Homo sapiens: one gene and its partner. The protein of the gene in region 1 purifies or fractionates together with the protein of each later gene. This does not show direct contact. Each region holds a gene or a part of one and is shown on either strand. Other genes may lie near its edges. The genes, in order: MAP4K1 and NUDC.

Region 1 (16,088 bases):
CTTTTTGCCCGCCCTCAGGCTGAACCTTGGCACCTGGAAATCTCCCAAAGACCAGATACTGAGCCCCAGATCCAGACCCAACAGTCAGCCCAGGCCCCCATACTCCCCAGCCCACAGGCCGAGTCAGGCTCCATCCAGGTGCGCGCACTCACTTCACCCATCACGTGCGACAGCCTGTGTGTGGCGCCAGCACAGGGAGAGCAGGGCCACGGCGCTGATGTCACCTGTGTTACTAGGTGGTGTAAAGGTGCAAAGCCGTGGTGCACTGTCAGCACTCCACCTCCAAGAGTTGCTGTTACTGTTATTAGTCTTTTTTTTGGAAACAGGCTAATCATTTTTTTGTAGGATGGGGTCTTGCCATGTTGTCCAGGCTGGTCTCAAACTCATGATTTGTTTTGGCACCAAGGCTAAGTGCAGGAGTGCAATGATGGCTTACTGCAGCCTCAACCTCCCAGGCTCAAGCAATCCTCCCACCTCAGCCTCCTGAGTAGCTGCGGTCACAGGCGCACCTGCCACGCCTGGCTAATTTTTAATTTTTTTCTGGAGACAAGGTCTTGCTATGCTGCCCAGGCTAGTCTCGAATTCCTGGGCTCAAGCCATCCTGCCCTGGCCTCCCAAAGCACTGCGATTACAGGCATGAGCCACTATGTCCAGCCTGGCTATTAATCCTTTAATCCTCTGCTCCAGGCAGAACCAGTCATCCCTTAATCCTCCTCACCTCAGACCCCAGTCCCGGGCCTCCAGCCCAGAACCATGCCATCTTCCCCGAGTCCTTGTTCCCCAGCCCCCCAGCTATTTAACCCATCTTTGTGTTTCAGCCCCACCCCTGCAGAGGACACACCTCCTCCACTTCCCCCCAAGGTAAGGCCCTGGGCCAGAGCTGGGAGGCTGGGGCCTCAGGGCCACTGGGGGCCAGGAGGCCAGGTCCTTAGATGCTGGGATACTGGGCTCTCCAGGGCAGGGAATTGGGGAGACCAGGATGATGGCTACATTGGGATCTGGAAGTGGCATCCCTCAACCTCAGGGTCGGATTCAAAATATTTAGCCTCTTAGACACTGGTCAGTAGCTGGTCCTAGGAAGCCCCTGCTATATATCCAGCATTAACCCATTAGTTTCTGAAGTGTGTTGATGTCCAGGCTGGGGATGTCAGGGGAAGGCTGGAGGGGGCACAAGATGTTGTCGGGGGGGTGGGTCAGAGCCACAGCTGTTAGTTCTGGTGGAGGCAGGGACTTGAGTTGCAAAAGGGTGCCCTCTCTGAGATCATCTGATGTATTTCCCCACGCTCCATTCCCGTCTCCAAAGCCCAAGTTCCGTTCTCCATCAGACGAGGGTCCTGGGAGCATGGGGGATGATGGGCAGCTGAGCCCGGGGGTGCTGGTCCGGTGTGCCAGTGGGCCCCCACCAAACAGCCCCCGTCCTGGGCCTCCCCCATCCACCAGCAGCCCCCACCTCACCGCCCATTCAGGTAATGGGACAGGCTAGGGTGGAGGGCGGGAGGGTTGGGGGTTCTTGGGGGCTGATTTTCTCCTAACCCCTCTCAGAACCCTCACTCTGGAACCCACCCTCCCGGGAGCTTGACAAGCCCCCACTTCTGCCCCCCAAGAAGGAAAAGATGAAGAGAAAGGTGAGGTTCAGCTCTGCTGAGGACTTACACCTCTGGACGGGGCTGGGGATGCCTGGTGGGGTGGGGAGGGGGTGGCAGGACTGACAGTAACAACAGGTGACATTTGTTGAGCGCTTCTCTGTGCCCTACACTTATCTCCTATCATTACATGGCATAAAGCTTCACAGAGTGAAGAAGATATCACAGAGATGTTATCCCCCATTTCACAAATGGGGAAATTGAAGCACAGAGAGGGTAAGTGGCTTACCCAAGGTCATATAAATACCTTTGAGGAGGCAGGCTGAGGCAGGATTGTTGTTTCTGCTTTTTTTTTTTTTTTTTTAAAGACGGAGTTTTGCTTGTTGCCCAGGCTAGAGTACAGTGGCGCGATCTTAGCTCACTACAACCTCCGCCTCCCTAGTTCAAGTGATTCTCCTGCCTCAGCCTCCGGAGTAGCTGAGATTACAGGCAATGCAGCACCATGCCCGGCTAATTTTGTATTTTTAGTAGAGGTGGGGTTTCACCATGTTGGTTAGGCTCGTCTTGAACTCCTGACCTCAGGTGATCCACCTGCCTCGGCCTCCCAAAGTGCTGGGATTACAGGCATGAGCCACCGCGTCTGGCATGCTTTTTTTTTTTTGAGACAGAGTCTCACTGTGTCACCCAGGCTGGAGTGCAGTGGCGCGATCTCGGCTCACTGCAAGCTCCGCCTCCCAGGTTCACACCATTCTCCTGCCTCAGCCTCCCGAGTAGCTGGGACTACAGGTGCCCGCCACCAGGCCCGGCTAATTTTTTGTATTTTTAGTAGAGACGGGGTTTCACCGTGTTAGCCAGGATGGTCTCGATCTCCTGACCTTGTGATCTGCCCGCCTCGGCCTCCCAAAGTGCTGGGATTACAGTCATGAGCCACCGCGCCCAGCTACTAAAAATTTAAAAAATTAGCTGGGCGTGGTGGCACACACCTATGGTCCCAGCTACTTGGGAAGCTGAGGTGGGAGGATTGCTTGAGTCCAGAAGTTAGAGTCTTTTGACAAGATCCATCAAAACCTCCATGAGTCACTACCACATATGCAGTTGCCCAAAGAGCCAAGATCTCAAGAAATTTTACCTCTCATAAATGGAGATGTACAAAAAGAACATCTCTTTATTCAGGAAGTTTCAGTGTTTTTACGTACATGCATAATGCCTACACACGTAGTCAGTGTTGTGATAATGCACCTTTGTGGCATCAAATTTGCCAACAAATGCATAAAATGAATTAGAACTCTCTAAAGTCTTTTTTTTTTTTTTTTTTTTTTTTTGAGATAGTATCTCGCTCTGTCGCCCAGGCTGCTGGAGTGCAGTGGCGCGATCATGGCTCACTGCAGCCTTGACCTCGGAGACTCAAGCAATCCATGCACCTCACCCTCCCTAGTAGCGCTTGGCTAATTTTTTTTTTTTTTTTCTGAGATGGAGTCTCACTCTGTCGCCCAGGCTGGAGTGCAGTGGTGCTATCTTGGCTCACTGCAACCTCTGCCTCCCCAGTCTAAGTGATCCTCCTGCCTCAGCCTCCTAAGTAGCCATGACTACAGGCGCCCACCACCACGCCCAGCTAATTTTTGTATTTTTAGTAGAGACGGAGTTTTGCCATGTTGGCCAGGCTGGTCTCAAACTCCTGACCTCAAGTTATCTGCCAGCCTCGGCCTCCCAAAGTGCTGGCATTACAGGCGTGAGCCACCGCGCCCGGCCCAGCTTGGCTAATTTTTAAAAAAATGTTTTATAGAGGCAGGGTCTCACTATGTTGCCCAAGCTGGTCCTGAACTCCTGGGCTTAAGTGATCCTCCCACCTCGGCCTCCCAAACTGGTGGGATTACAGCCGTGCCTGGTTGGCTACCGGCTAAAAGTATGTATAATTTATACCTCCAGCACTGGAAATGATTCAAAGATGAAATGCATAGCATAATTAATCATACATATATACATATACATATATACACACACATATACATGTATATGTGTGTATATATGTATACGTGTATATATATGTATATGCATATATATGTACATGTGTATATATGTATATGTGTGTATATATGTATATGTGTATATATGTATATGCGTATATATGTACATGTGTATATATGTATACATGTATGTGTGTGTGTATATGTATGTGTATATATGTATATGCGTATATATGTACATGTGTATATATATGTGTATATGTATATGTGTATATATGTATGTGTATATATGTATATGCGTATATATGTACATGTGTATATATGTATACATGTATATGTGTGTATATATGTATATGCGTATATATGTACATGTGTATATATGTACATGTGTATATATGTACATGTGTATATATGTATATGTGTATATGTATATGCGTATATATGTACATGTGTATATATGTATACATGTATATGTGTGTATATATGTATATGTATATATGTATATGCGTATATATGTGCATGTGTATATGTGTGTATATATGTATGTGTATATATGTATATGCGTATATGTGTACATGTGTGTATATATGTACATGTGTATATAAGTATATATGTACATGTGTATATATGTATATGTGTATATATGTATATGCGTATATATGTACATGTGTATATATGTATATATGTATGTGTGTATATATGTATATGTGTATATATGTATATGCGTATATATGTACATGTGTATATATGTATACATGTATATGTGTGTATATATGTATACATGTATATGTGTGTATATATGTATATGCGTATATATGTACATGTGTATATATGTATATATGTATAGGTGTGTATATATATGTATATGTGTATATATATGTATATGCGTATATATGTACATGTGTATATATATGTATATATGTATATGTGTGTATATATATGTATATGTGTATATATGTATATGCGTATATATGTACACGTGTATATATGTATATATGTATATGTGTGTATATATGTATATGTGTGTATATATGTATGTGTGTGTGTATATATATGTGTGTGTGTGTGTGTGTGTCTATATATATATGTATATGTGTATATATATATATGCTGGCCAGGCACAGTGGCTCATGCCTGTAATCCCAGCACTTTGGGAGACCAAGGCAGACGCATCACCTGAGGTCAGGAGTTCGAGACCAGCCTGGCCAACATGGCGAAACCCTGTCTCTACTAAAATACAAAAATTAGCCAGGCGTGGTGTTGTGTGCCAGTAATCCCAGCTATTCAGGAGGCTGAGGCAGAAGAATTGCTTGAGCCCAGGAGGTGGAGGTTGCAGTGAGCTGAGATTGCATCACTGCACTCCAGCCTGGGCAACAGAGTGAGACTCCATCTCCAAAAACAAAACTGACAGCTGGGAGTGGTGCCTCACGCCTGTAATCTCAGCACTTTGGGAGGCTGAGGCAGGTGAATCACATGAGGCCAAGAGTTCAAGACCAGCCTGGGCAACATGGCAAAACTCCATCTCTACTAAAAATACAAAAATTAGCTGGGTGTGGTGGCACACGCCTTTGGTCCCAGCTACTCAGAAGGCTTAGGCATGAGAATCAGTTGAACTTGGGAAGCAGAGGTTGTAGTGAGCTGAGATCATGTCATTGCATTCCAGCCTGGGCAACCGAGTGAGACTCTGTCTTAAAAAAAACAAATGCTGATGATTTAGGATAGTGGAGGAAAAACTAAAAAAAGAAATATATAACAACAACAAAAAAAAACAAAAACAAACTGAAAAGAAAACTCAATGTATGAAAAAGTGTATTACAGGGATAGATTATGGGAAATTGCACCAAGGTAAGAGGCAGGATTTGAACCTTGGCACTCTCGCTCCAAAGTCGTAACCACTGCCCCTTCCTGTTCCCTGCTCTCTTTGCCGGATCTGCTGCCTGGCCCCGCGGCGACCTGCCCAGGGATGTGCCCTTCTCGTAAAGTTGTTCAATGGCTGCCCCCTCCGGATCCACAGCACGGCCGCCTGGACACATCCCTCCACCAAGGGTGGGCATTCTGGAGGGTCAAGGAGATCCTGTAGGGAATGGGAGAGCAAAAGTAGGGGTGGGGAGAAGCCTAAGGAAGGCACAAAGGCAGGGACGGGGAGGAGCTTAATGGAGTTGGGGTGTGGCCAGGCTGAAACAGGGGCGGAGCTTGTCCTTACACTCAGGATTTGGTGATCAAAGATGCATAGAGGGCAGCCAGGTGTGGTGGCTCACACCTGTAATCCCAGCACTTTGGGAGGCTGAGGCGGGTGAATCATTTGAGGTCAGGAGTTCAAGACCAGCCTGGCCAACATGGTGAAACCCCGTCTCTACTAAAAATACAAAAGAAGCTAGGTAGGCCGGGCATGGTGGCTCACGCCTGTAATCCCAGCACTTTGGGAGGCGGAGGCGGGCGGATCATTTGAGGTCAGGAGTTTGAGACCAGCCTGGCCAACGTGGTAAAACCTCGTCTCTACTAAAAACACAAAAATTAGCCAGGCGTGGTAGCACGTGCCTATAATCCCAGCTACTCAGGAGGCTGAGGCAGGATAATTGCTTGAATCCAGGGGGCGGAAGTTGCAGTGAGCTGAGATCATGCCACTGCACTCCAGCCTGGGCAACAGAGCAAGACTCAGTCTCAAAAAAAAAAAAAAAAAAAAAAAATGGGTAGAGGGATGAGTTGGAGAGTGAAAGTAGGAATATTGGAATTCAGGGGCCAGGAGTGTCAGAATATAACAAAAAGGTTAGAGTTTGGAGCACGAGAAAGATGGACAGCTGGAGGTTAATGATAGGGAGACTGGGAGCAGCATTTTGGGGTGAGGAATTTTAGAGATTAGGATGCAGCCAGAAAGGGACAGAATCTAGAGATCAAAGAGATGAAGACAAGGTCAGTGTTAAAGGAACAGGTCACACTGGACAGAAAAAGTCCTGTTTGGGGGTGTCTGAGTTTGAAGGTCAATGTTAGGATTGGCATTAGGGTATCAGAACTGGGGAGAAAGAGGGGAGGAAATCAGAGGACTATTTTGGGGGACAGGTCTAAGGTTGGGGTCAGTTTGGTTCAGAAGACAGTTGGGCAGAGAAGAAAGAACCACCAGAATATGGGTAGTCAAAAGGAGGGAGAGTGAGACTGGCTTGCGGGACCGTCCGCTCTGGCTTTGTTTGGGGAAACAGAGGCTGGGAGTATTGGTTTGGAGAAAGAATAGAGGGTCAGAGCTGGGGACAGAGTGTCAGTGTTTGAGGTCAGACAGGTGGGGATCTGGGAGGTCCCTGAGGATGAAGTCGGTCCCAGCGTCCTTGTCTGTGCCTCCAGACCAGCACCTGCTCCTGGGGGCAGAGGAAGGCATCTTCATCCTGAACCGGAATGACCAGGAGGCCACGCTGGAAATGGTGAGGAACCATACCGGGCCAGGGCAAGGGCAAGGGCCGGAGTCGGGGGTTGCTGGGGTGTCACCAGAGCCATCTCTCCCATTCCCTGCAGCTCTTTCCTAGCCGGACTACGTGGGTGTACTCCATCAACAACGTTCTCATGTCTCTCTCAGGTCTGGCTGTGGGTAGCAGGTGGGATGGGGTCGGAAGTTAAGGGGTCCAAGGGTTCGGGGGCTGGGAAGTAGACGGGCACAGCTGAAAAAAAACTTAGACTGCTTGGTCACAAAGTCCTAGGTTCAAATCCCAGACACTTTTTGACTGTGCTCCCCAAGCCTCAATTTCTCCATTTGTAAAATGGGGTTCACAATAGTCCTCACCTCTCAAGTCAATTTTGAGGTAGTTTCTACAATAAATTAGTCTTTTTTTTTCTTTTTTTGAGACAGAGTCTCCCTCTGTCACTCAGGCTGGAGCGCAGTGGTACAATCTCAGCTCACGGCAACCTCTGCCTCCCAGGTTCAAGTGATTCTCATGCCTCAGCCTCCTGAGTAGCTGGAATTACAGGTGTGCACCACCACACCTGGCTAAATTTTGTATTTTTAGTAGAGACAGAGTTTTACCCTGTTGGCCAGGCTGGTCTCAAACTCCTGACCTCAGGTGATCCAACTGCCTTGGCCTCCCAAAATGCTGGGATTACAGGCATGAGCCACCACACCTGGCCTTAGATTAGCCTTTTTTTTTTTTTTTTTTTTTGAGACCGAGTCTCACTCAGTTGCCCAGGCTGGAGTGCAGGGGCGTGATCTTGGCTAACTGCAACCTCTACTTCCTGGGTTCAAGCAATTCTCGTGCCTCAGCCTCCCGAGTAGCTGGTATTACAGATGTGAGCCATCATGACTGGCTTTTTTTTTTTTTACTTTTTTTATTTTTTATTTTTAGTAGAGATGGGGTTTTACCATGTTGGCCAGGCTGGTCGCAAACTCCTGACCTCAGGTGATCCACCCGCCTTGGCCTCCCAAAGTGCTGGGATTACAGGTGTGGGCCACCGCACCTGGCCTAAATTAGTCCTTTTTTTTTTTTTTTTTTTTTTTGAGATAGACTCTCACTCTGTTGCCCAGACTGGAGTGCAGTGGCGCAGTCTCGGCTCACTGCAACCTCCGTTTCCCAGGTTCAAGCGATTCTCCTGCCTCACCCTCCCAAGTAGCTGGGATTACAGGCACCTGCCACCACACGCGGCTAATTTTTTGTGTTTTTAGTAGAGACGGGGTTTCGCCATGTTGGCCAGGCTGGTCTCGAACTCCTGACCTGGTGATCCACTCGTCTCAGCCCCCCAAAGTGCTGGGATTACAGGTGTAAGCCACCGTGCCCAGCCCTAAGTTAGTCTTTAAATAGCTTTCATGTTCAGATGACAATCAGAACTTATTCCATACTTTACTAAGATAGAGTGAGCAAGTTATAGATTTCAAAATCTGGACGGGGTGCAGTGGCTCATGCCTGTGATCCCAGCACTTTGAGAGGCCAAGGCAGTAGTACTGCTTGAGCCCAGGAGTTCTAGATCAGCCTGGGCAACATAGTGAGACCTCGTCTCTACTAAAAATTAAAAAAAAATTAGCTGGGTGTGGTGGCACACACCTATGGTTCCAGCTACTCGGGAGGCTGAGGTGGGAGGATCACTTGAGCCCAGAAGTTAGAGGCTGCAGTGAGTCATGATCACACCACTGCACTCCAGCCTGGAAGACAGAATGAGACCCTGTCTATATATAACAATAAATAGGCCGGGTGCGGTGGTTCACACCTGTAATCCCAACACTTTGGGAGGCCGAGGCGGGTAGATCACCTGAGGTCAGTAGTTCGAGACCAGACTGGCCAACATGGTAAAACCCCGTCTCTACTAAAAATACAAAAATTATCCAGGCATGGTGGCGCATACCTCTACTCCCAGCTACTTGGGAGGCTGAGGCATGAGAATTGCTTGAACCTGGGAGGCAGAGGCTGCAGTGAGCCAAGATTATACCACTGCACTCCAGCCTGGGTGACAGAGCGAGACTGTCTAAAATAATAATAATAATAATAAATAAATGAAATAATTTCTAGTTTTGGGGGAAACACCAAGCCAAATGGGATTCATGAGTTAGTGAAAGCCACATCTGTGATGACAAACTAGAAGATTTTCTAGATGTGTTTCTTCTAAAACTTTGTAAGATGTGTAACTTCATCTGACTGGTTATGTGTCCAGAGTTTCTGATACGGCTACAAATACCACGAGGGTAGGGAACATATTTTTTATGCTCATCACTGTTCACCAGAGCCAAGCACAGCAGGCCTGGCCTACAATGGACGTTCAATCTATGTGGAGTGAGAAATGAATGAATGAATGACAAGTACTTGAGACTTGCAGGCTTGGGAGTTTCAGACAAAGGGATGGGGCTGAGGGAAGGGATGGAGGAAAGGAAGTGGTATATGGGATCCTATAACTTCCTGCTTCCCCCTACATACACACACCCTGCAGGAAAGACCCCCCACCTGTATTCTCATAGCATCCTTGGCCTGCTGGAACGGAAAGAGACCAGAGCAGGAAACCCCATCGCTCACATTAGCCCCCACCGCCTACTGGCAAGGTACCAGCTCCCAATGAATGGCACCACACAGCCTTATAATTCCTCCCATGCCCCTCTGCCTCCTGCTGTCCTACCCCCCTTCACACCTACCTATTCTCCAGGAAGAACATGGTTTCCACCAAGATCCAGGACACCAAAGGCTGCCGGGCGTGCTGTGTGGGTGAGAGAGAGCTTCACGGGTGTGCAGAGAGTGGGCGGGGCCAGGCCAGAGGAGGGGCTTGAACTGCATCCACCTGAGAAGGTTACAGAGTTAAGGCAATGTGTCCAGAACCCAGAAGATGGGTGGTAGTGTGGGTGGCGAGGAGGATAGAGGGCATTGATCTTGACTCATCCTTGCCCATGCCACAGCGGAGGGTGCGAGCTCTGGGGGCCCGTTCCTGTGCGGTGCATTGGAGACGTCCGTTGTCCTGCTTCAGTGGTACCAGCCCATGAACAAATTCCTGCTTGTCCGGGTAAGGGGCTTGGGAGGGTGCTGGGAACTCTGAGGAGTGGGTGGCTAAGGCCTTGCACCCTTTGCGCTTCTATCAAGAGCTCCATGAAGCCCCACCTCCGTCGAGGCCCCGCCCCAATCTCCCGAGGCCCCGCCCACCTGCGGTCTGCGCTTGGAGCCTCGTCCTTCTGAAGCCATCCTGATCCTTAAGCGCCGCCCCTCACACCTGGGCCTAATTATTCCTCAGGCTCAATGCTGCCACTCCCTGGGTGTCCTAGTAGAGCCCATTTAGAGCCTGTCTCTTTGAGTGTCTAAGCAGGTTTTGCTATCTTTGGGGCCCTGCCCGTCTGCCGCCAAGGTGGCATGCCCCCACATGGAAGCCACACCCACTCGGAGGTCACGACCCCCGTTCCCGCGGAGGCACCAGGCCTTATCCCCTGACATTTCTAGACGGCATCCCCCAAGACTTAGGGCCCTGGTTCGGAAGTCCCAGGCCAGCTACAAGCCACGCCCCCTGAGGCCCCGTCCTGAACCACCCCCTAGCCCGCCCCTCCCTGTGCGGCCCGCAGCAGGTGCTGTTCCCACTGCCGACGCCTCTGTCCGTGTTCGCGCTGCTGACCGGGCCAGGCTCTGAGCTGCCCGCTGTGTGCATCGGCGTGAGCCCCGGGCGGCCGGGGAAGTCGGTGCTCTTCCACACGGTGCGCTTTGGCGCGCTCTCTTGCTGGCTGGGCGAGATGAGCACCGGTGAGTGGGGCGGAGTCTTGCTGAGGGCGGGGCTTATCAGATCCGGAGGGGCGGAGCTGGAGGCGGGGCTTCGCTTAGCCTGAGGCACTACGGGACTGAGAAAGGGCTGGAAGGGCGGAGAAGGGAGAATGGCAGGTTTTAGTTAACTGGGGAGATTGATGATGGGGTGGGACCGGGATGGTGGGCGGGGTTTAGCCCACTTGCTTGTGAACTGAGGCGGTGGCTAAAGCACAGGTACTGGCCTTCTGGGGGTGGTGTGGGGAAAGGGGAATGGGGTGGGGTCAATCCTTAACCCACTCCCCCCAAACAGAGCACAGGGGACCCGTGCAGGTGACCCAGGTAGAGGAAGATATGGTGATGGTGTTGATGGATGGTGAGAACCCTCCTTCCTCCCCTTCCTCCCCACCCCTCCAGCTGCAGTCCCTAGATCTCTGCCTCCGAACTTGTGCTTCTCAGAACCCCCTGAGCCCCTCTGGGCCTTGCCCCTGTCCTACATAGCTTTCACACTGAATTTATGGATTGGTCCCTTAGTAACCCTCTAAGCCTTGCTCACAGTTCTTAAAACCGTCTATCTCCTTCCAGGCTCTGTGAAGCTGGTGACCCCGGAGGGGTCCCCAGTCCGGGGACTTCGCACACCTGAGATCCCCATGACCGAAGCGGTGGAGGCCGTGGGTCTGTGCAGGGACGGGAGAGCCCAGGATCAGGGGTGGAAACTCAAGTGATCCCCAAGGGTAACGGGCATTGCTTTCTCCCCAGCTATGGTTGGAGGTCAGCTTCAGGCCTTCTGGAAGCATGGAGTGCAGGTGTGGGCTCTAGGCTCGGATCAGGTAAGCCCCTCCATCCAAACTCCACATCACTGCCCCCCAGCCTCCATCATGACATTCATCAGATGGGCTCCGAGAACTCCTGAGTCAGAGTGTGAAGTCCTGGAGGGGAAACATCTTCCAAATTTCAGTTCAGATAGATCCCCTTCTTTGCCCCAGGATTTATTTTTTATTTTATTTTTATTTATTTATTTATTTAAGACGGAGTTTCACTCTTGTTGCCCAGGCTGGAGTGCAGTGGTGCGATCCCGGCTCACTGCAACCTCCACCTCCCGGGTTCACGCGATTCTCCTGCCTCGGCCTCCCAAGTAGCTGGGATTACAGGCATGCGCCACCACAGCTGGCTAATTTTTGTATTTTCAGTAGAGACGGGGTTTCACCATGTTCATCAGGCTGGATGGTCTTGAACTCTTGACCTGGGGTGATTCACCCGCCTTGGCCTCCCAAAGTGCTGGGATTACAGCTGTCAGCCACCACACCCGGCCTATTTTATAGATAGATAGATAGATAGATAGATAGATAGATAGATAAAATTTATTTATTTTTGGAGATGGATTCTTGCTCTGTCACCCAGGCTGGAGTGTAGTGGCGCGATCTCGGCTCACTGCAGCCTCTGCCTCCCAGGTTCAAAGAATTCTCCTGCCTCAGCCTCCTGAGTAGCTGAGACTACAGGTGCATGCCGCCATGCTTAGCTAATTTTTTTGTATTTTTAGTAGAGACAGGGTTTCACCATGTTGCCCAGGCTAGTCTCAAACTCCTGAGCTCAGCCAATCTGCCTTCCTTGGCCTCACAAAGTGCTAGGATTACAGGTGTGAGCCACCACTCCTGGCCATTTTTATATATTTTTTGAGACAGAGTCTCGCTCTGTCACCCAGGGCAGAGTGCAGTGGCATGATCCGAGCTCACTGCAACCTCTGCCTCCTGGGTCCAAGTGATTCTCCTGCCTCAGCCTCCCGAGTAGCTGGGATTACAGGTACACTCCATCATGCCCAGGTAATTTTTGTATTTTTAGTAGAGACGGGGTTTTGTCATGTTGGCCAGACTGGTCTCGAACTCCTGACCTCAAGTGATCTGCCCGCCTCAGCCTCCGAAAGTGCTGGGAGTACAGGCGTGAGCTACTTCACCCGGCCTGTTTGTTTTGGAGATAGGGTCTCTCTCTCTTGTCCAGGCTGAAGTGCAGTGGTGCAACCATAGCTAGCTGTAGCCTTGACTTTCTGGGCTCAAGCAATCCTCCCTCCTCAGCCTCTCAAGTGGCTTGGATTACAGGTGTGAGCCACTGCACCTGGCTGCTCTTGGATTTCTTGAGTCCCAATCTCATCCTGGGCCACTACTGTGACCTTGGGCTGGCAACGTTGCTTCTCTTTAAGCTTCTGTTCCCCAACTGTAAAATGGGGACCACTATAGAGATATATGGATAGTTAAGACAAGACTGTCTGGGTTGGAATTCAGCTGAGTGGCCTTGGGCAAATGACTTAACCTTCCTGTGCCTCACTGTCCTCATTTGGAAAATGGTGTTTATCTCACAGAATACTGTGTCAGACTTTGCCCTTACACTTTAGTATTTTTATTTATTTATTTTTGCTCACTCAGTTCCTTCCCTCTTTTTGAAATGGAGTCTCGCTCTGTTCCCCAGACTGGAGTGTTAGTGGCACAATCTTGGCTCATTGCAACCTCTGCCACCCAGGTTCAAGCGATTCTCGTGCCTCACCCTCACAAGTAGCTGGGACTACAGGCATGCGCCACCACAGCTGGCTAATTTTTGTATTTTCAGTAGAAATACAAAAATTATCTCAGCTGGAGATCTCGGCTCCAGTGGCACGCCCAGTGGCGCAATCTCAGCTCAATGCAATTTCTGCCTCCCGGGTTCAAGTGATTCTTCTGCCTCAGATCCTGAGTAGCTGGGACTATAGGCGCGCACCACCATGCCTAGCTAATTTTTGTATTTTTAGTAGAGACGAGGTTTTGCCATGTTGGCCAGGCTGGTCTCGAACTCCTGACCTCAGGTGATCCACCCACTTCGGCCTCCCAAAGTGCTGGGATTACAGGCGTGAGCCACCGTGCCCAGCTCCTTGCTGTCTTTAAGGGAGCCATGTTCGTAGTGACAGTGGAGGTATCTTCCAGGCACTGAGACACACACTTTTTTTCCCTAGCTGCTACAGGAGCTGAGAGACCCTACCCTCACTTTCCGTCTGCTTGGCTCCCCCAGGTATGTTGTGGGGTGGGGTGCAGAAGGACCTGGGAGGGGGCTTCTGATGTGAAGAGAGCATTCTGAGGTGTCCCCAGCAAGGTATCTCTAGCCTGGACAGTGTCTCACCTGGTCACCCTGCTTCCATCCCTGCTCCCTAGAGTCTGTTCTCTGCACTGCAGCCACGGGGGCGTTCTCTCTTTTTGTTTTGTTTCTCACTGTACTCAAAGGCTGGAGTGCAATGGCACGACCACGGCTCACTGCAGCCTTGACCTCCCAGGCTCAAGTGATCCACCCACCTCAGCTTCCTGAGTATCTGGAACTACCGGCATGTGCCACCATGCCCAGCAATTCTTTTATTTATTTATTTATTTATTTATTTATTGAGATGGAGTTTTGCTTTTGTTGCCCAGGCTGGAGTGCAATGGTGTGATCTTGGTTCACTGCAACCTCTGCCTCCCAGGTTCAAGCGATTCTCTTGCCTCAGCCTCCCAAGTAGCTGGGATTACAGGCATGTGCCACCACACCCGGCTAATACTATATTTTTTAGTAGAGATGGCATTTCACCATGTTGGCCAGGCTGGTCTCGAACTCCTGACCTCGGTGATCCACCTGCCTCGGCCTCCCAAAGTGCTGGGATTATAGGCATGAGCCACTGCACCTGGCCAATCCTTTTATTTTTTAATTTTAATTCTTTTATTTATAAAATTTTTTTAAAATTTATTTTTGACACAGAGTCTCGCTGTGTTGCCCAGGCTGGAGTGCAGTGGCACAATCTCAGCTCACTGCAACCTCTGCCTCCCAGGTTCAAGTGATTCTCATGCTTCAGCCTCCCAAGTAGCTGGGTTTACAGGTGTGTACCACCACATTTGGCTATTTTTTGTATTTTTAGTAGAGACGGGGTTTCGCCTTGTTAGCCAGGCTGGTCTCAAACTACTGACCTCAGGTGATCCAGCTGCCTTGGCCTCCCAAAGTTCTGGGATTACAGGAGTGAGCCACTGCACCTGGCCTTAATTTTATTTCATTTTTGAGACAAGGTCTCATTCTGTTGCGCAGGCTGAAGTGCAGTGTTACACACACAGCTCACTGCAGTCTTGACCTTCTGAGCTCAACTGATCCTCCCACCTCAGCCTCCCAAGTAGCTAGGTCCACAGGCATACACCACCACAACTGGCTAATTTTTAAAATTTTTTTGTAGAGACGGGGTCTTGCCATGTTGCCCTGGCTGTCCTTGAACTGCTGGCCTCAAGCAATCTTCCTACCTTGGCCTCCCAAAATGTTAGGATTACTGGCATGAGCCACCACACCTGGCTGCATTTTTTTTTTTTTTTTGAGACGGATTCTTGCTCTGTTGCCCAGCCTGGAATGCGGTGGCGTGATTTCAGCTCACCACAACCTCCACCCACTGGGTTCACGCGATTCTCCTGCCTCAGCCTCCCGAGTAACTGGGATTACAGGCATGTGCCACTGTGCCCGGCTAATTTTTGTATTTTTAGTAGAGACAGGCTTTCGCCATGTTGTCCAGGCTGCTCTTGAACCCCTGATCTCAGGTGATCTGCCCGCCTCGGCCTCCCAAAGTGCTGGGACTACAGGCATGAGCCACCGTGCCCAGCCCTGGCTGCATTTTTATTTTAGATTTTTATCTTATTAAAAATTTTTAACTATTAAAAATAACTATTTTAACTATTTTGACATAATTTAAAACTCACACTCCCAGAGAAGTTGCAAAAATCCCTTTTATCCAGATTAACCAGATCTTTTTTTTTTTTTTTTTTTGAGATGGAGTCTTGCTGTGTGGCCCAGGCTGGAGTGCAGTGGATCTCCACTCACTGCAACCTCTGCCTCCCGGGTTCAGGCAAGTCTCCTGTCTCAACCTCCTGAGTAGCTGGGACTACAGTTGCACACCACCACGCCCAGCTAATTTTTTTGTTTTTTTAGTAGATGTGGGCTTTCATCATGGTGGTTAGGCTGGTCTCGAACTCTTGACCTCAGGTGATCCACCCACCTCTGCCTCCCAAAGTGCTGGGATTACAGGCGTGAGCCACTGTACCTGGCCAGATGTTAATCTTTTTAACCGCATTTGCCTTATTATTCTTTTTTTTTTCTTTTCTTGAGACAGAGTTTCGCTCTTGTTGCCCAGGCTGGAGTGCAATGGCATAATCTCAGCTCACCACAACCTCCCACTCCTGGGTTCAAGCACTCCTCCTGCCTCAGCCTCCCGAGTAGCTGGGATTACAGGCATGTGCCACCATGCCCGGCCTCTTCTCTTTCTTATGCGCACACACCACACATACAAGTATATGTGTGTGTGTGTGTGTGTGTGTGTGTGTGTGTGTGATTTTTTAATGAATATTTGG
Region 2 (16,088 bases), on another chromosome or scaffold:
TATTTTTTAAATCTTAAAATTTTTTTTTGTAGGCCAGGTAGGGTGACTCACGCCTGTAATCCCAGCGCTTCGGGAGGCCAAGGTGGGTGGATCACCTGAGGTCAGGATTTAGACCACTGGAGTTCGAGACCAGCCTGGCCAACAAGGTGAAACCCTGCCTCTACTAAAAATACAAAAATTAGGCTGGGCTCGGTGGCTCACACCTGTAAACCAGGCACTCTGGGAGGCCGAGGCAGGCGGATCACCTGAGGTCGGGAGTTCAAGACCAGCCTGACCAACTTGGAGAAACCCTGTCTCTACTAAAAATACAAAAATTAGCTGGGCGTGGTGGCGCATGCCTGTAATCCCAGCTACTTGGGAAGCTGAGGCAGGAGAATTGCTTGAACCCAGGAGACAGATGTTGTGGTGAGCCGAGATCAGGACACCGTACTCCAGCCTGGGCAACAACAGCAAAACTCCATCTCAAAAAAAAAAAAAAAAAAAAAAAAAAAAAAAAAAAAAAAAATATATATATATATATATATATATATATATATTAGCCGGGCGTGGTGGTGGGTGCCTGTAATCCCAGCTACTTGGGAGGCTGAGGCAGAAGAACTGCTTGAACTCAGGAGGCGGAGGCTGCAGTGAGCCAAGATCATGCCACTGCACTCACGCCTCAGCACCAGAGACTCCAAGTCAAAAAAAAACAAAACATTTTTTTTTTGTAGAGATGGAGTCTCATTATATTACCCAGGCTGGTCTTCAACTCCTGGGCTCAAGTGATCCTACCACCTCAGCCTCCCAAAGTGCTGTGATTACAGGCCTGAGCCACTGTGCCTGACCCTTAATTTTTTGTTTTTGTCTTTGTTTGAGGTCTCTTAATTTACAGGTTTCTATCACCCAGTGTAAAGTGTGAACCTTACTTGAATTAGGAATCAAACAATCGTAATCAAATACCCAATAAAAAAGACAAATGTCTTGACTAGATGATATATGATATCATCTAGTTCTGTGTCCCCACCCAAATCTCATCTTGAATTGTAGTTCCCATAATCCCCACATGTCATGGGAAGGACCTGGTGGGGGGTAATTTGAATCATGGGGGTGGCTACCCCCATGCTGCTTTCTTGATAGTGAGTTATCATGAGATCTGATGATTTTACAAGGGGCTTTTCCGCCTTTGCCTGGCACTTCTCCTTCCTGCCACCTTGTAAAGGTGGTACCTGCTTCCCCTTCACCTTCCACCCTGACTGTAAGTTTCCTAAGGCTTCCTCAGCCATGCAGAACTATGAGTCAATTAAACCTCTTTCCTGGCCATAGTACATGAGGGTTCTGTATTAGTCTGTTCTCATGCTGCTATGAAGGAATACCCTAGACTGGGTAATTTATAAAGAAAAGAGGTTTACGGCTGGGCACGGTGGCTCACGCCTGTAATCCCAACACTTTGGGAGGCCAAGGGGGCACGGAACACCTGACGTCAGGAGTTCGAGACCAGGTTGGCCAACACAGTGAAACCCTGTCTCTACTAAAAATACAAAAATTAGCCAGGCGTGGTGGCAGGCACCTGTAATCCCAGCTACTTGGGAGGCTGAGGCAGGAGAATCGCTTGAACCCAGGAGGCAGAGGTTGCAGTGAGCTGAGATCGCCCCACTGCACTCCAGCCTGGGTGACAGAGCGAGACTCTGTCTCAAAAGAAAAAAAAACAAAAAACAAAAACAAAAAAACCTGTCCTGGCCGGGCGCGGTGGTTCACGCCTGTAATCCCAGCACTTTGGGAGGCCAAGGCAAGTGGATCACGAGGCCAGGAGATCGAGACCATCCTGGCTAACACGGTGAAACCCCGTCTTTACTAAAAACACAAAAAATTAGCCGGGCATGGTGGGGGGTGCCTGTAGTCCCAGCTACTGGAGGCTGAGGCAGGAGAATGGCGTGAACCCAGGAGGCGGAGCTTGCAGTGAGCCCAGATTGCACCACTGCACTCCAGCCCGGGCGACAGAGCGAGACTCCATCTCAAAAAAAAAAAAAAACCTCTGTCCTTTATAAATTACCCAGTCTTGGGTATTTCTTCACAGCAGCATGAGAACGAAGTAATACCTTGTCACAGATGAGCTTTGGACTGGGACTTATGGGTTAATGCAGAAATGAATTAAGACTTTGTGGGGCTGTTGGAAGGGCATGATTGTGTTTTGAAATGTGAAGACATGAGATTTGGCGGGGGTACCAGGGGCAGAATGATACCGTTTGGCTCTGTTTCCCCACCCAAATCTCACCTTGAATTGTAATTCCCACATGTCAAAGGCAGTACCAGGTGGAGGTAACTGAATCACCAGGATGGTTTCCCCCATGCTGTTCTCATGATACGAGTGAGTTCTCACAAGATCTGATGGTTTTATTAGCGTCTGGCATTTCTTCTGCTGGCACTCATTCTCTCTCCTGCCAATCTGTGAAGAAATGCCTTCTTCCATGATTTTAAGTTTCCTGAGGCCTCCCCGGTCATGCAGAACTCTGAGTCAATTAAACCTCTTTTTTTTCTTCTTTGAGACGGAGTCTCGCTCTCTCGACAGGCTGGAGTGCCATAGCACAATCTCGACTCACTGCAACCTCTGCCTCCCACGTTTAAGCGATTCTCTTGCCTCAGCCTCCTAAGTGGCTGGGAATACAGGCACACGCCACCACACCCAGCTAATTTTTGTATTTTTAGGAGAGCTGGGGTTTCACCATGTTGGCCAGGATGTTCTTGATCTCCTGACCTCGTGATCTGCCCACCTTGGCCACCCAAAGTGGTGGGATTACAGGCGTGAGCCACCGTGCCCAGCCGTAATCCTCTTTTCTTTATGAATTACCCAGTCTGGGGTATTCCTTCATAGCAGCATGAGAACAGACTAATACAGAATCCTCATGTACTATTAGTGGTAGTGTCAAATGGTGCATCTGCTATGGAAAAGATCATGGCATTTCCTAAAAAAACTAAAAACTGGCTGGATGCAGTGGCTCAAACCTGTAATCCCAGCACTTTGGGAGGCCGAGGCGGGTGGATCACCTGAGGTCAGGAGTTTGAGACCAACCTGGCCAACATGGTGAAACCCCGTCTCTAATAGAAATACAAAAATTAGCCAGGTGTGGTGGCAGGTGCCTGTAATCCCAGCTACTCAGGAAGCTGAGGCAGGAGAATCGCTTGAACCCAGGAGGCAGAGGTTGCAGTGAGCCGAGATTGCATCATTGCACTCCAGCCTGGGCAACAAGAGTAATACTGTCTTAAAACAAAAACAAAAACAAAAACAAAAACTACCATATGATCCAATAGATTACACTGCCGAGTAACACCTGCAAGAATTGAAAATAGAATCTCAAAAGATTTGTGCACCTATGTTCACAAAAGTACTATGCACAATAACCAAGGGGTGAAAGCAACCCAAAAGTCCATCAGCAGAAGAATAGATTTAAAAAAAAAAATTGTGGCCGGGCGCGGTGGTCAAGCCTGTAATCCCAGCTCTTTGGGAGGCCGAGCCAGGCAGATCACGAAGTCAGGAGTTCAAGACCAGCCTGACCAATATGGTAAAACCCCGACTCTAATAAAAATACAAAAATTAGCCGGGCGTGGTGGCGTGTGCCTGTAGTCCCAGGTACTCGGGAGGCTGAGGTTGCAGTGAGCCAAGATCGTGCCACTGCACTCCAGCGTGGGCAAGAAACAGAGCAAGACTTGTCTCAAAAAGAAAAAAAAAAATTGTGATATATACATATAATGGAATATTATTCAGCCTTAAAGGGGATGGAAATCCTGTCACATGCTACAATGTGGATAAATCTGTGGACATTACATTAAACGAAATAAGCCAGTCACAAAGACATACATATTGTATGATTCCATTTATATGAAGTATCTACAGTAGTCAACCTACACAGAAAACAGAACAGCAGTTACCAGGAGGTAGGGGAGGGAACAAAGCGAAGTTGCTTAATGGGTACAGGGTTTCAGTTCCCTAAGATGCAAAGAGGTCTTACAAATATGTTTCTTAGTGTAAGTTCACTTAACACTACTGAACTGTACACTTAAAAATGGTTAACATGGGCCAGCACAGTGGCTCACATCTGTTATCCTAGAACTTTGGGAGGCCGAGTCAGGCAGATCACTTGAGCCCTGGAGTTAGAGACCAGCCTGGGAAACATGGTAAAACCTCATCTCTACAAAAAAAACAGAAAAATTAGCTGGGGGCCGGGCGCAGTGGCTCACACCTGTAATCCCAGCACTTTGGGAAGTCGAGGCAGGAGGATCATGCGGTCAGGAGTTCAAGACAGGTTTGACTGACATGGTGAAACTTCATCTCTACATTGTAAAAATACAATAATTAGCCCGGCATGGTTGTGCGCACCTGTAATCCCAGCTACTCAGGAGGCTGAGGCAGGAGAATCGCTTGAACCCGGAAGGCAGAGGTTGCAGTGAGCCAAGGTCACACCACTATACTCTAGCCTGGGCAACAGAGCGATACTCTGTCTCAAAAAAAAAAAAGAAAAAGAAAAATTAGCTGGGCATGATGGCACTGGAGTCCAAGCTACTTAAGGGGTTAAAGTGGGAGGATCACCTGAGCCTTGGGGAGGTCAAGGTAAGTAGTGATCATGCCACTGCACTCCAGTGGGTGACAGAGTGAGACTCTGTCTCAGAAATATAAATAAATAAATTAAATAAAAATTAAAAAAAAAAAAAGGGGCCAAGCGTGGTGGCTCACACCTATAATCCCAACATTTTAGGAGGCCAAGATGGGCGGATCACAAGGTCAAGAGTTTGAGACCAGCCTGGCCAATGTTACTGAAACCCTGTCTCTACTAAAAATACAAAAATTAGCCAGGCGTGGTGGTGGGCACCTGTAGTCCCAGCTACTTGGGAGGCTGAGGCAGGAGAAATCTCTTTTTTTTTTTGAGATGGAGTCTCGTTCTGTCGCCAGGCTGGAGTGCAGTGGCGATCTTGGCTCACTGCAACCTCTGACTCCTGGGTTCAAGCGATTCTCCTCCCTCAGCCTCCCGAGTAGCTGGGATTATAGGAGAGTGCCACCATGCCCGGCTAATTTTTGTATTTTTAGTAGAGACAGGGTTTCACCGCGTTGGCCAGGATAGTCTCGATCTCCTGACCTCATGATCCGCCCACCTCGGCCTCCCAAAGTGCTGGGATTATAGGTGTGAGCCACCGTGCCCAACCGGTACGAGAAATCTCTTGAACCCAGGAGGCACAGGTTGCAGTGAGCCGAAATGGTGCCACTGCACTCCAACCTGGGCGAAAAAGCGAGACTCTACCTCAAAAAAAAAAAAAAAAAAAAAAAGGCCAGGCGCAGTGGTTCATGCCTGTAATCCCAGCACTTTGGGAGGCTGAGGCAGGCAGATCACCTGAGGTCAGGAGTTCGAGATCAGCCTGGCCAACATGGTAAAACCCCATCTCTACTAAAAATACAAAAATTAGCCAGGCGTGGTGGCACACGCCTGTAATCCCAGCTACTCGGGAGGCTGAGGTGGGAGAACTGCTGGAACCTGGGAGGCAGAGGTTGCAGTGAGCCAAGATGGCGCCACTGCACTCCAGGCTGGGCAACAGAGCGAGACTCCGTCTCAAACAAACAAACAAACAAAAAACAAAACAAAGGTTAAGAAGGTAAATTTTATGATGTGCTTTTTACCACACTTTTTTTCTGAGACAGAGTCTCGCTCTGTGGCCCAGGCTGGAGTGTAATGGCATGATCTCGGCTCACTGCAAACTCTGTCTCCCAGGTTCAAGCAATTCTCCCACCTCAGCTTCTCGAGTAGCTGGGATTACAGGCCCCTGCCACCATGCCCAGCTAATTTTTGTATTTTTAGTAGAGACGAGGTTTCACCATTTGGCCAGGCTGGTCTCAAACTCCTGACCTCAGGTGATCTGCCCACCTCGGCCTTCCAAAGTGCTGGGATTACAGGTGTGAGCCACCGTGCCCAGCCCACTATTTTTTTTTTTTTTTTTTTGAGACAGGGTTTAGCTCTGTTGCCCAGGATGGATTACAGTGCCGTTTATCATGGGTCACTGCAGCCTCAAACTCCTGGGCTCCAGAGATCCTCCCACCTTGGTCTGCAGAGTAGCTGGGACTACAGGCTTGTGCCACCACTCTTGGCTATGATTTTCTATTTTTTGTACAGATATGCTCTATGTTGGACCAGACTGGTCTTGAACACCTGGCCTCAAGTGATCCCCCCATCTCAGCCCATATTTTTTTAAAAAACAAAAGAGCTGGGTACAATGGCGGCCGCAAAGGCGGGTAGGTCGCTTGAGATCAGAATCAGAAATTCAAGACCTGCTTGGGCAAGATGGTGAAACCCCCACTCTACAAAAAATACAAAAATTAGCTGGGTGTGGTGGGGCACGCCTATACTCCCAGTTACTCAGGAGGCTGAGGTGAGAGGACCGCCTGAGCCTAGTGGTCATGGCTGCAGTGAATCATGATCGCACTACTGGACACCATCCAGGCTGGGCAGCAGAGCGAGACCCTGTCTCAAAACAAAACAAAACACAATAGTAAGAGAGCATTGAGGGAAATCAGAACCCTGACTGGATGTGGATCTCTGGTAATATTTAAAGAATTGGTATGCTTTTCTGGAGAAGGTATACCATTACAGTTACATTTGTTGTGGCTGTTGTTGTTGTTTTTGTTTTTGAGACGGAGTTTCACTCTTGTTGCCCAGGGTAGAGTGCAGTGGTGCGATCTCGACTCACTGAAACCTCCGCCTCCTGGGTTCAAGTGATTCTCCTGCCTCAGCCTCCCGAGTAGCTGGGATTACAGGCGCCTACCACCATGCCCAGCTAATTTTTGTATTTTTAGTAGGGACAGGGTTTCACCATATTGGCCAGGCTGGCCTCTAACTCCTGACCTCAGGTGATCCACCCACCTCAGCTTCCCAAAGTGCTGGGATTACAGGTATGAGCCACTGTGCCCGGCCCTACAGTTATGTTTTTAAACAGTAACTTTTCTTTTAGATAGTCACATAATATTTACTCATCAAAAAATATGCCTTCAATTATATGTAAGTGGAATGCAATAGGGTAGTCCCACCGTACCCACGAAGATTTGTTCCAGGACCACTCCCCAACACTAATTTCCGAGGATGCTCAAGTCCCTTATATAAAATGGCATTTTATTTGCATATAACCTACATGCATCCTCCTGCATACTCTCAATCATCCCTAGATTACCTAATACCTAATACAATGTAACTGCTACGGATGTAAGTAATTAGATTATATTTTTTTAATTTGTTTTTTTTTTTTGTTTTTTCAGAAGGGGTCTTGCTATGTTGCCCAGGCTGATCTCAAATTCCTGGGCTCAAGCCATCCTCCCATCTCAGCCACCCAAGTAGCTGGGATTACAGGTGTGCGTCACCACGTCGGGCTTAATTCATATTTTTTTATTATTGTACTGTCATTTAAAAAAAATTTTTTTTCCAAATATTTTCCATCAGTGGTTGGTTAAGCTCATGGATGCAGAGCCCACGGATACAAAGGATCAACTGTATTTGTCCTTTTGTGACCAGCTTATTTCATATAACATGATGTCCTCCAAGGTACATCCATGTAGCAATGGACAGGATTTCTTTCCCTTTTAAGGCAGAATAACATCCCAGAGTATGTCTATACCACATTGTTTATCCATTCACCTGCTGATGGAGCCTTTGGTTCCTTCCACCTTTTGGCTGTTATGAATAAGGCTGCTGTGAACATGGGTGTGCAAGTAAATCCTCCTCCTGATTATTTTGGGTATATACCCACAAGCATGACTGCTAGAACATACGATAGTTGTATTCTTTAACTTTCTGAGAAACCGCCATAACGTTTTCCATAGCAGATGCACCATTTGACATTCCCACCACAGTGTACAAGGGTTCCAGTTTCTCCCTATCTTTGTCAACACTTGTTATTTTGTTTTATCTTTTAACGGATGCCATCCTAACAGATGTGAAATAGTATCTCATTGTGGGTTTTGTTTTGGAAACAAAGTCCTGCTCTGTCACCAAGACTGCAGCGTAGTGACACAATCACGGCTCACTGAAGCCTCAACCTCCCAGGCTCAAGCAATCCTCCTACCTCAGCCTCCTGAGTGGTTGGGACTAAAGGCATGTGCCACAAGGCCTGGCTAATTTTTATTTATGAGTTCCTAAATATGAAATTCACAATTAAATGTTATTTTTCCTCTGCACTGCATATTTTCTCATAATCTGGTGTTCTTCAATTGACTTAAATGTCTTTTACCATTTACAAAGTTTCAGCATCTGAAAAGGCAAACAGCTATCTCTTCTTTTATAGCTTCCAGTTTTCTAATGCTGAAAAGTCTCCCCCACATAAGACTATAGTTTCCTAGTTTTCCTTACAGGATTTTTATTATTGGTATTTTTATAGAGTATGACAGATGGCAAATTTTGTTTTTTTAACCAAAAAAAATTCATGTAGCAGCATGACTTATTAAATCATGCTTTGCCTACTGAACTGAATTACCACAATAGACACATTAAATCCTCATAAATGCCAGACTTTATTTCAGGATTCTCTATTCTGCTTCACTGGTCCATTTTTCTCTTCTTCTATCAATACCATATTGATTAGATCACTATGGCTGTATTCAAGTCTACAATTCCTAGCCCCAAAAGCTATAAAAACTAAAAGTGCTTTTGTATTTTTTTGTAAGTTCGTGGCATGAGGTATTTACAGTCTTCATTTCTTCTACTTGGTATGTATATTGATATATATATTTCTGCAGAAATATTAATGTGTTTTGTTGCAGGATGCAGCTCCTGGCCTGCGATTAGATTATTGTATGTAATGCACATTATATGCACTGTATTGCCTTTCTGAAATCCAAATAATTTTAAATACCAAAACACATGTGGCCCCAAGGGATTCTGAAGTGGATTGTGGTCTTTGCCTTTTTTTAAATCCTCGTAACATCCTTGTAAGGTAAGGACTGCTCCCTCTTACAGTTAAGAAAAATTAGGGGCTGGGCGCAGTGGCTCATGACTGTAATCCCAGCACTTTGAGGGGCCGAAGCGGGCAGATCACGAGCTCAGGAGTTCGAGACCAACCTGACCAACATGGTGAAACCCCGGCTCTACTAAAAATACGAAAATTAGCCAGGCATAGGGGCGGGCGCCTGTAATCCCAGCTACTCAGGAGGCTGAGGCAGAAGAATCGCTTGAACCTGGGAGGCGGGGATTGCAGTGAGCTGAGATCGCTCCACTGCTCTCCTGCCTAGGTCATAGAGCAAGACTCCGTCTCAAAAAAAAAAAAAAAAGAAAAAGAAAAATTAGGTAGTCCCAGCACTTTGGGAGGCTAAGGCGGCTGGATCACGCCACTGTGCTCCAGCTGGGACAACAGAGCAAGACCCTGACACACACACACACACACACACACACACACACACACACACGGTTCATCTCTCTCCCTTCTTACAGCCACTGTGCTCCAGCTGGGACAACAGAGCAAGACCCTGACACACACACACACGGTTCATCTCTCTCCCTTCTTACAGCTATTCATCCTTCATATCTGAAGCGTCACTTCCTCACAAAGTCTTCTCTGAGCCCCCAACCTAGGTTAGTTTTATGTTCCCAGGGATTCTGCCCCAACACCCACTACTTTTTCACTGCTTGTTTTTTTTATTTTGGCTACACTGTGAGATCCATGAAAACAAAGAACAAATCTGTATTCACCTCTGCAATCCCAAAAGGTTTGATATAGCACCTAACATAATCCAAAGTGTTAAGTGTTCAATAAACATTCATTGAAAAAAGTAGGCCGGGTGCAGTGGCTCACGCCTGTAATCCCAGCACTTTGGGAGGCTGAGGCTGGGGGATCACCTGAGGTCAGGAGTTTGAGAACAGCCTAACCAACATGGTGAAACCTGTCTCTACTAAAAATACAAAATTAGCCAGGCATGGTGGTGCATGCCTGTAATCCCACCTACTTAGGAGGCTGAGGCAGGAGAATCACTTACAACCTGGGAGGCAGAAGTTGCAGTGGGCTGAGATCGTGCCATTGCACTCCAGACTGGGCAACAAGCATGAAACTCCGTGTCAAAAAAAAAAAGAAAGAAAAAATAAATGACTAGTCCCAAAAGCTATAAAAACTAAAAGTGCTTTTGTATTTTTTTGTAAGTTTGCGGCATGAGGTTTTACAGGTAGTCTGACCCACAGAAAGGCCAGAGGTGTTAGTGACAATACAGAAAAAATATCTGAGCTAGAAGGGGTCTACTTTCTCCCATTTTACAGATGTAAAGATGGAAAGAACCAGAGCATTGCTGGGAACTCGACTAGGTGACAAAGCTAGACCAAGAACCTGGGACTCCTACTCTTAGGTAATGTGTCTATGACAGAGTGGCCTCAGACATTCAGGACACATTAAAGAGTTTACCAACTTGTTAGAATCCTGAAGCCACAGAAAACGGTTTGCAAAGAACGTCTACGTCTCCTTCTTATTATGTCTCTTGTTTATGTCTATTATAAAGATAATGGCGCCGGGCGTGGTGGCTCACGCCTGTAATCTCAGCTACTCAGGAGGCTGAGCACAATAATTGCTTGAACCCAAGAGGCAGACATTGCAGTGAGCCAAGATCGCACCATTGCACTCCAGCCTGGATAAAAAGAGCGGGACTCCGTCTCAAAAAAAAAAAAGGCTGGGCATGGTGGCTCACACCTGTAATCCCAGCACTTCGGGAGGCCAAGGCAGGCAGATCACCTGAGGTTGGGAGTTCAAGACCAGCCTGGCCAACATGGTGAAACCCCATCTCTACTAAAAATACAAATATTATCCAGGCGTGGTGGTGCATGCCTGTAATCCCAGCTACTCAGGAGGCTGAGGCAGGAGAATTGCTTGAACTCGCAAGGCGGAGGTTGTGGTGAGCTGAGATCGTGCCATTGCACTGCAGCCTGGGCAACAGAGTGAAACTCTGTCTCAAAAAAAAAAAAAAAAAAAAATTCCTCATGATATAACAATTTTCAAAAGTATAATTACAACTTTAAGGAATCAGAAAGAAGTTCAAGGTCTCAGAATCAATACTACAAAACAGAAATCCTTAAACTCTGAGTCACAGCATCTGGGAAGACATGCCTCTGAGTATTTCTAAATTTATTTCTTTTTTTTTTTTTTTTTTTTTTGAGACGGAGTCTCACTGTTGCCCAGGCTGGAGTGCAATGGCGCGATCTCGGCTCACTGCAAGCTCCGCCCCCCGGGGTTCACGCCATTCTCCTGCCTCAGCCTCCAGAGTAGCCGGGACTACAGGCGCCCGCCACCTCGCCTGGCTAATTTTTTGTGTTTTTAGTAGAGACGGGGTTTCACCGTGTTAGCCAGCATGGTCTCGATCTCCTGACCTCGTGATCCGCCAGCCTCGGCCTCCCAAAGTGCTGGGATTACAGGCGTGAGCCACCGCGCCCGGCCTTCTAAATTTATTTCTAAGCATCAGTTTCTAATATTTGCCCAGTCTCATCTCCTAGGTTATTAGTTAAAACCTCCTCAGGCCGGGTGCAGTGGCTCACACCTGTACTCCCAGCGCTTTAGGAGGCCGAGGTGGGTGGATCACTTGAGGTCAGGGGTTCGAGACCAGCCTGGCCAACATGGTGAAACCTCATCTCTACTAAAAATACAAAAATTAGCCAGGCATGGTGGCGCCTGCCTGTAATCCCAGCTACTTGGGAGGCTGAGGCACAAGAATCACTTAAACCCAGGAGGCGGAGGTTGCAGTGAGCCTAGATTATGCCACTGCACTCCAGCCTGCGCAACAGAATGAGACTCCATTTCAAAAAATAAAATAAAATAAAATAAATAAAAGTAAAAATAAAACCTCCTGGCCAGGCACAGTGGCTTATACCTGTAATCCCAGCACTTTGGGAGGCCGAGGCGGGTGGATCATGAGGTCAGGAGTTCGAGACCAGCCTGGCCAATATGATGAAACCTCGTCTCTATCAAAATACAAAAATTAGCCAGGTGTGGTGGCGGGCGCCTGTAATCCCACTTACTCAGGAGGCTGAGGCAGGAGAATTGCTTGAACCCAGGAGGCGAAAGTTGCAGTGAGCCGACATTGCGCCACTGCGCTTCAGCTTGGGTGACAAAGCAAGACTCTGTCTCAGAAAATAAATAAATAAATAAAACCTCCTCATTGGAAAAGGAACTGAGAGGCACTGTGTCGGGGCAGAGGACAGGTTTACAACAGACTGGTTTCAACCCTGGTTCTCCCACAGCTCAGCTCAAGACTTTGGATAAGGTGCAAAATTCTCTTGAGCCAATTTCCTCAATGGGGATAGTTAACACCTGCCCCTCTTGTAGAACTGCAAAAGTCATGGGAAATAAGGTAGATAGAGGGCTGAGCAAGGAGTGGAGCTTGAAGAAATGACAGCTTCCTTCCCTTCCCCAATTCCTCACCTTTGGCATTTCGCTTCTGCTGAAAGTTACTATTATGCCAAAGAAAGGCCAGGTGAGCTTTTCTTCTGAAGAGACAGAGCCGCCCAAAGGACAGTGGTTTCCAACACTTACCTTCTCTGCCATCCCTTCTTCTCCTCCAATGAAAAAGTCTGTTTTGCGTCGAAGGAAGCTGAAGAAGGTGTTCACAAGCTGAAAGAGGGGGAGAAGATTAAAGTAGTAGAGCTGCATTTGGGAGCCCTTCAACTGCACACAAGTCAACTTGTTTTGTCTAGGAGGGAACTTGGGACTTGACTATTTTTCCTCTGAGCTTCCCAACTGAGGAGATTATCTCCCCAGCAGGTTCTCTTAGTCACTTCCACCATGAAGCAGATTTCTCATATCCTGTGTGTGTGTGCGCCTTTCACTTTCCTTGTGATGCTAGAAGCAGCCTAAGCGTATGGAACACTCCTCTGCATCCAGGGCATGAAAAGCCTGGGCCCAGCTTTCCTCTCCAGAAAGTAAAAAGCCCATCAAGACACTGGCTCACACCTATAATCCCAGTACTTCAGGAGGCTCAGGTGGGCGGGTCACTTGAGGTCAGGAGTTCAAGACCAGCCTGGCCAACATGGTGAAACCCCGTCTCTACTAAAAACACAAAAATTAGCTAGATTACAGGTGGTGGGCACCTGTAATCCCAGCTACTTGGGAGGCTGAGGCAGAGAATCACTTGAACCCGGGAAGCAGAGGTTGCAGTGAGCCAAGATCGTGCCACCGCACTCCAGCCTGGGTGAGAGACTCTTGTCTAAACAAAAAAAAAGACACTGGCTAAGTTACCGGGTCAAAGCAAGAAGGAGGAGAGCAAATGAAGCCACTTCAAAGGAGGATAAGATGGATTAATTCTGGCTGGAGTACAAGTGTAGCCAACGGTTTGAGTATCAGATGGACATATATTACCTTTTGACTTTGCAGAAGTTTCTTAACTCTGTACAACAGGAATAAGATGCAGTACCTATTTCTAGGGACCTGGTGAGGATCATGAGGTCAAGGAGGTGAGGCCTTTAGCAATGTATGGCACAGAGCAAGAGACCCACTGGCAGAGGGTAAACACCTTACAAATAGGAACCATGAACCATGGCTTAGTCTGTCTGCCACCTGCAATGCTGGGCACCAGATATGGCTAAAGGTACATAATCAGTAAAATTCTTGCTGAATGAAACAATCTAGTGGTGACTCAAGGTCAGCACACACAAACCCTTTATTTGCCCAAGAGTGGGTCTAAATCTGATTAAATCTGATGCTAGAACATATCTCAATGGTTTCCGTTCTTGCTTCTAGACAGTTTTTCAATTTGCTCAAAAATGAACTCGCTCCCAAATCCAGTTTTGTGCGAACAGTTTAGAGGAATGGAGACAGGAAGGCTTTTCACACTTGCAAATGAGAAACACTCTCCCCACCACAAAGGGCTTAGAAGTCCTTGGTCACCAGACACCTAGGTTACATAGGAATAGAAAGTTCAATGGAAACCTACCTCCAGTAAGACACAATCAGCCATGGACTCTGGGAAGCACACTGACCTGTCTAGGTGAGAACCATGTTGCATGATCTAGGCAAATCCTTGCCACTTCTCTGGCTCTGAGAATGAGAGTTCTGATCCTGACAGACTTTTCTACCGTTAACTTTGTGTTTGTTCCAAAAAAACCAACTCCAGAATCTGTAACAGTTGGCCCTTATTGTCGAGTGTGGGACACACATCAATCACACGACAAATACTTGTTGAATGAAAAAGCCTTATTACTGAGAACTTACGGTTCTTAACTACTCTCTGGAAACCGGTATTCGCAGCTGTCTCACAGATAAGGAAACTCAGGCTTGGAGAGATGTAAAGGTTCCAAGTTGGTAGGTGGTGGAAACTAATCGTGAACACAGGCCTCCTATTCCCCCATTCAAGGCCTAACAAGACCACGTGCTAACATCAGCCCGCTCCCCTACCACACACATTCGACGGCTCGCCCCAAGCCTTGGTGGATCCAAATCACGATATTTGCGACGGTTCTTACTAAGGGATGCTCCTTGGAAGCCGCCATCAAAGTGGAAACGGGGGTGGGGGCATATGTGAAACTAAAGGGGGATCCTAAGCTCAGGGATGCGATAATTTGCTACTACTGAGGGGCGCCGGGGGCCCGGGACTGATGCGAACCGGGTGAGACCTGCTGGCGGGTGGCCAGGCCGGAAGCTGGGCGCAGTGAGAATGTAGGGGCATCCCAGAAGCCCGCGAGCCGCTGGGGTGGGTCTCAGCCCTCGAAGGCAGAGAAGGGCGGAAGGAGCGTGGCCAAGGCCGCCGGGTGGGCCGACGCCGCGCGGGCCGTTACCTCCTGCACGCCGCCCTCGTGCTGCTGAGCCATGGCCAGCAACATGCCGTCGAACCGCTCCTCCTCCTGCTCTCCGCCCATCGCGCCGGCTCCGATCCACGTCCCGGAGCTCTGCACTCTAGTCCCGCGCTCTCTACGCTCCTGCGGGTCGCGCCGGGCCCAACGACTCTAGTCGTCCGCCTTCCGCAGCGGAGCCGGAAACACGCACGCGCGCGGCTGCCCAGGCCCGCCTCCACCTCCTCTCTTCCCGCCTTCCTCCCGGTTTGCGGCCATTGACCGTGCGGCAAGCAACCCGCTTCGCCGACCATTGGTCGACATTCGGAGCCAATCAACAAGCGCGTCCACGAAGCGGTAGGCGGAGCCGTGGGCCCGAGAGTTTGGCATGAGTTGCTATGGTCACCCGATGCCGTGGAGACTTCTAGAAAGCCCTGGACTCAAATCTGGCAGGGTTGGAAGTTAAAAAGGGACAAGTTTTGCCCCTCTCCCTTGCTAGCGACCCCCCCAGCTTGTAGAGCAGTGAAGCTGAAAGTAGCCTTACTCATCTCTTCCAATCCTAGAAGGGACTTACCACAGGACAGCCTCCTCCTCATCGACCTCACTGCGTACTTGACTAGGGCCAGCTTCATGGGAGTACAAATTGCAGTCGCACAGCACCCAGGCTTAGAAAGGCTCCACGCTTGATTTCATGGCCTTCTGTTATAGTCTTGAAATTCTTAATAATTTTGGAATAAGGAGACCCACATTTTCATTTTGCACTGGGCCCAGGAAATTATGACAGGTGCTGAAATTGACCTTCACTTCTGTTAATGCGGGGACAGGACCCAGCCATCCAAGCTAATCCCTCCACTTGTGCAATGAATCTCATCATCTTAGTCTTTTCAGGAACTCTATCCCTGTTAATTATCCCTTTTTTTAGCTTATGCATCACAAATATCTTTCTTCTTCCCTTCAATTTACAAACACGCTTTAATATCTTTTTGTTTGTTTTTAGAGATGGGGTTCTTGCATTGTCACCCAAGCTGGAGTGCAGTGGCACCATCTTGGCTTACGGCAGCCTTGAACTCCTGGACTCAAGCCATCTTCCCCACTTCAGCCTCCAGAGTAGCTGGGACTACAGGCTCACATCACCACGCCCTGCTGTTTTTTTTTTTTTGTTTTTTGTTTTTTGTTTTTTGGTAGAGATGGAGTCTGTGTTGCCCAGGCTAAGTCTCAAACCCTGGTCTCAAGCACTCCTCCTGCCTCAGCCTCTCAAAGTGCTGGGATTACAGGTGTGAGCCACCATGCCCAGCCCTGTTTTTATATTATTATTCCATGGCCCCACTTTCTTCTGCTGCTACCTCTCCAATT

The links.
Region 2: the proteins of MAP4K1 (region 1) and NUDC purify together in Homo sapiens (affinity purification with mass spectrometry; 3 studies listed by BioGRID and IntAct, with this or other methods). This does not show direct contact.

What each region holds. Positions count from the first base shown.
Region 1 is NC_000019.10:38,590,946-38,607,033, reverse strand, and holds part of MAP4K1 (mitogen-activated protein kinase kinase kinase kinase 1), read left to right. Parts: intron 1-18; coding exon of another isoform or gene 19-138; intron 139-818; coding exon 819-861; intron 862-1,303; coding exon 1,304-1,466; intron 1,467-1,542; coding exon 1,543-1,625; intron 1,626-5,339; exon of another isoform or gene 5,340-5,508; coding exon 5,509-5,593; exon of another isoform or gene 5,594-5,621; intron 5,622-6,880; coding exon 6,881-6,957; intron 6,958-7,048; coding exon 7,049-7,109; intron 7,110-9,439; coding exon 9,440-9,548; intron 9,549-9,638; exon of another isoform or gene 9,639-9,649; coding exon 9,650-9,708; exon of another isoform or gene 9,709-9,781; intron 9,782-9,896; coding exon 9,897-10,000; intron 10,001-10,547; coding exon 10,548-10,722; intron 10,723-11,032; coding exon 11,033-11,095; intron 11,096-11,304; coding exon 11,305-11,394; intron 11,395-11,478; coding exon 11,479-11,549; intron 11,550-13,696; coding exon 13,697-13,752; intron 13,753-16,088. UniProt on the Homo sapiens protein: Serine/threonine-protein kinase, which plays a role in the response to environmental stress. Appears to act upstream of the JUN N-terminal pathway.
Region 2 is NC_000001.11:26,920,583-26,936,670, reverse strand, and holds the start of NUDC (nuclear migration protein nudC), read right to left. Parts: upstream 14,929-16,088; 5' UTR 14,823-14,928; coding exon 14,742-14,822; intron 12,583-14,741; coding exon 12,505-12,582; intron 1-12,504. UniProt on the Homo sapiens protein: Plays a role in neurogenesis and neuronal migration. Necessary for correct formation of mitotic spindles and chromosome separation during mitosis. Necessary for cytokinesis and cell proliferation.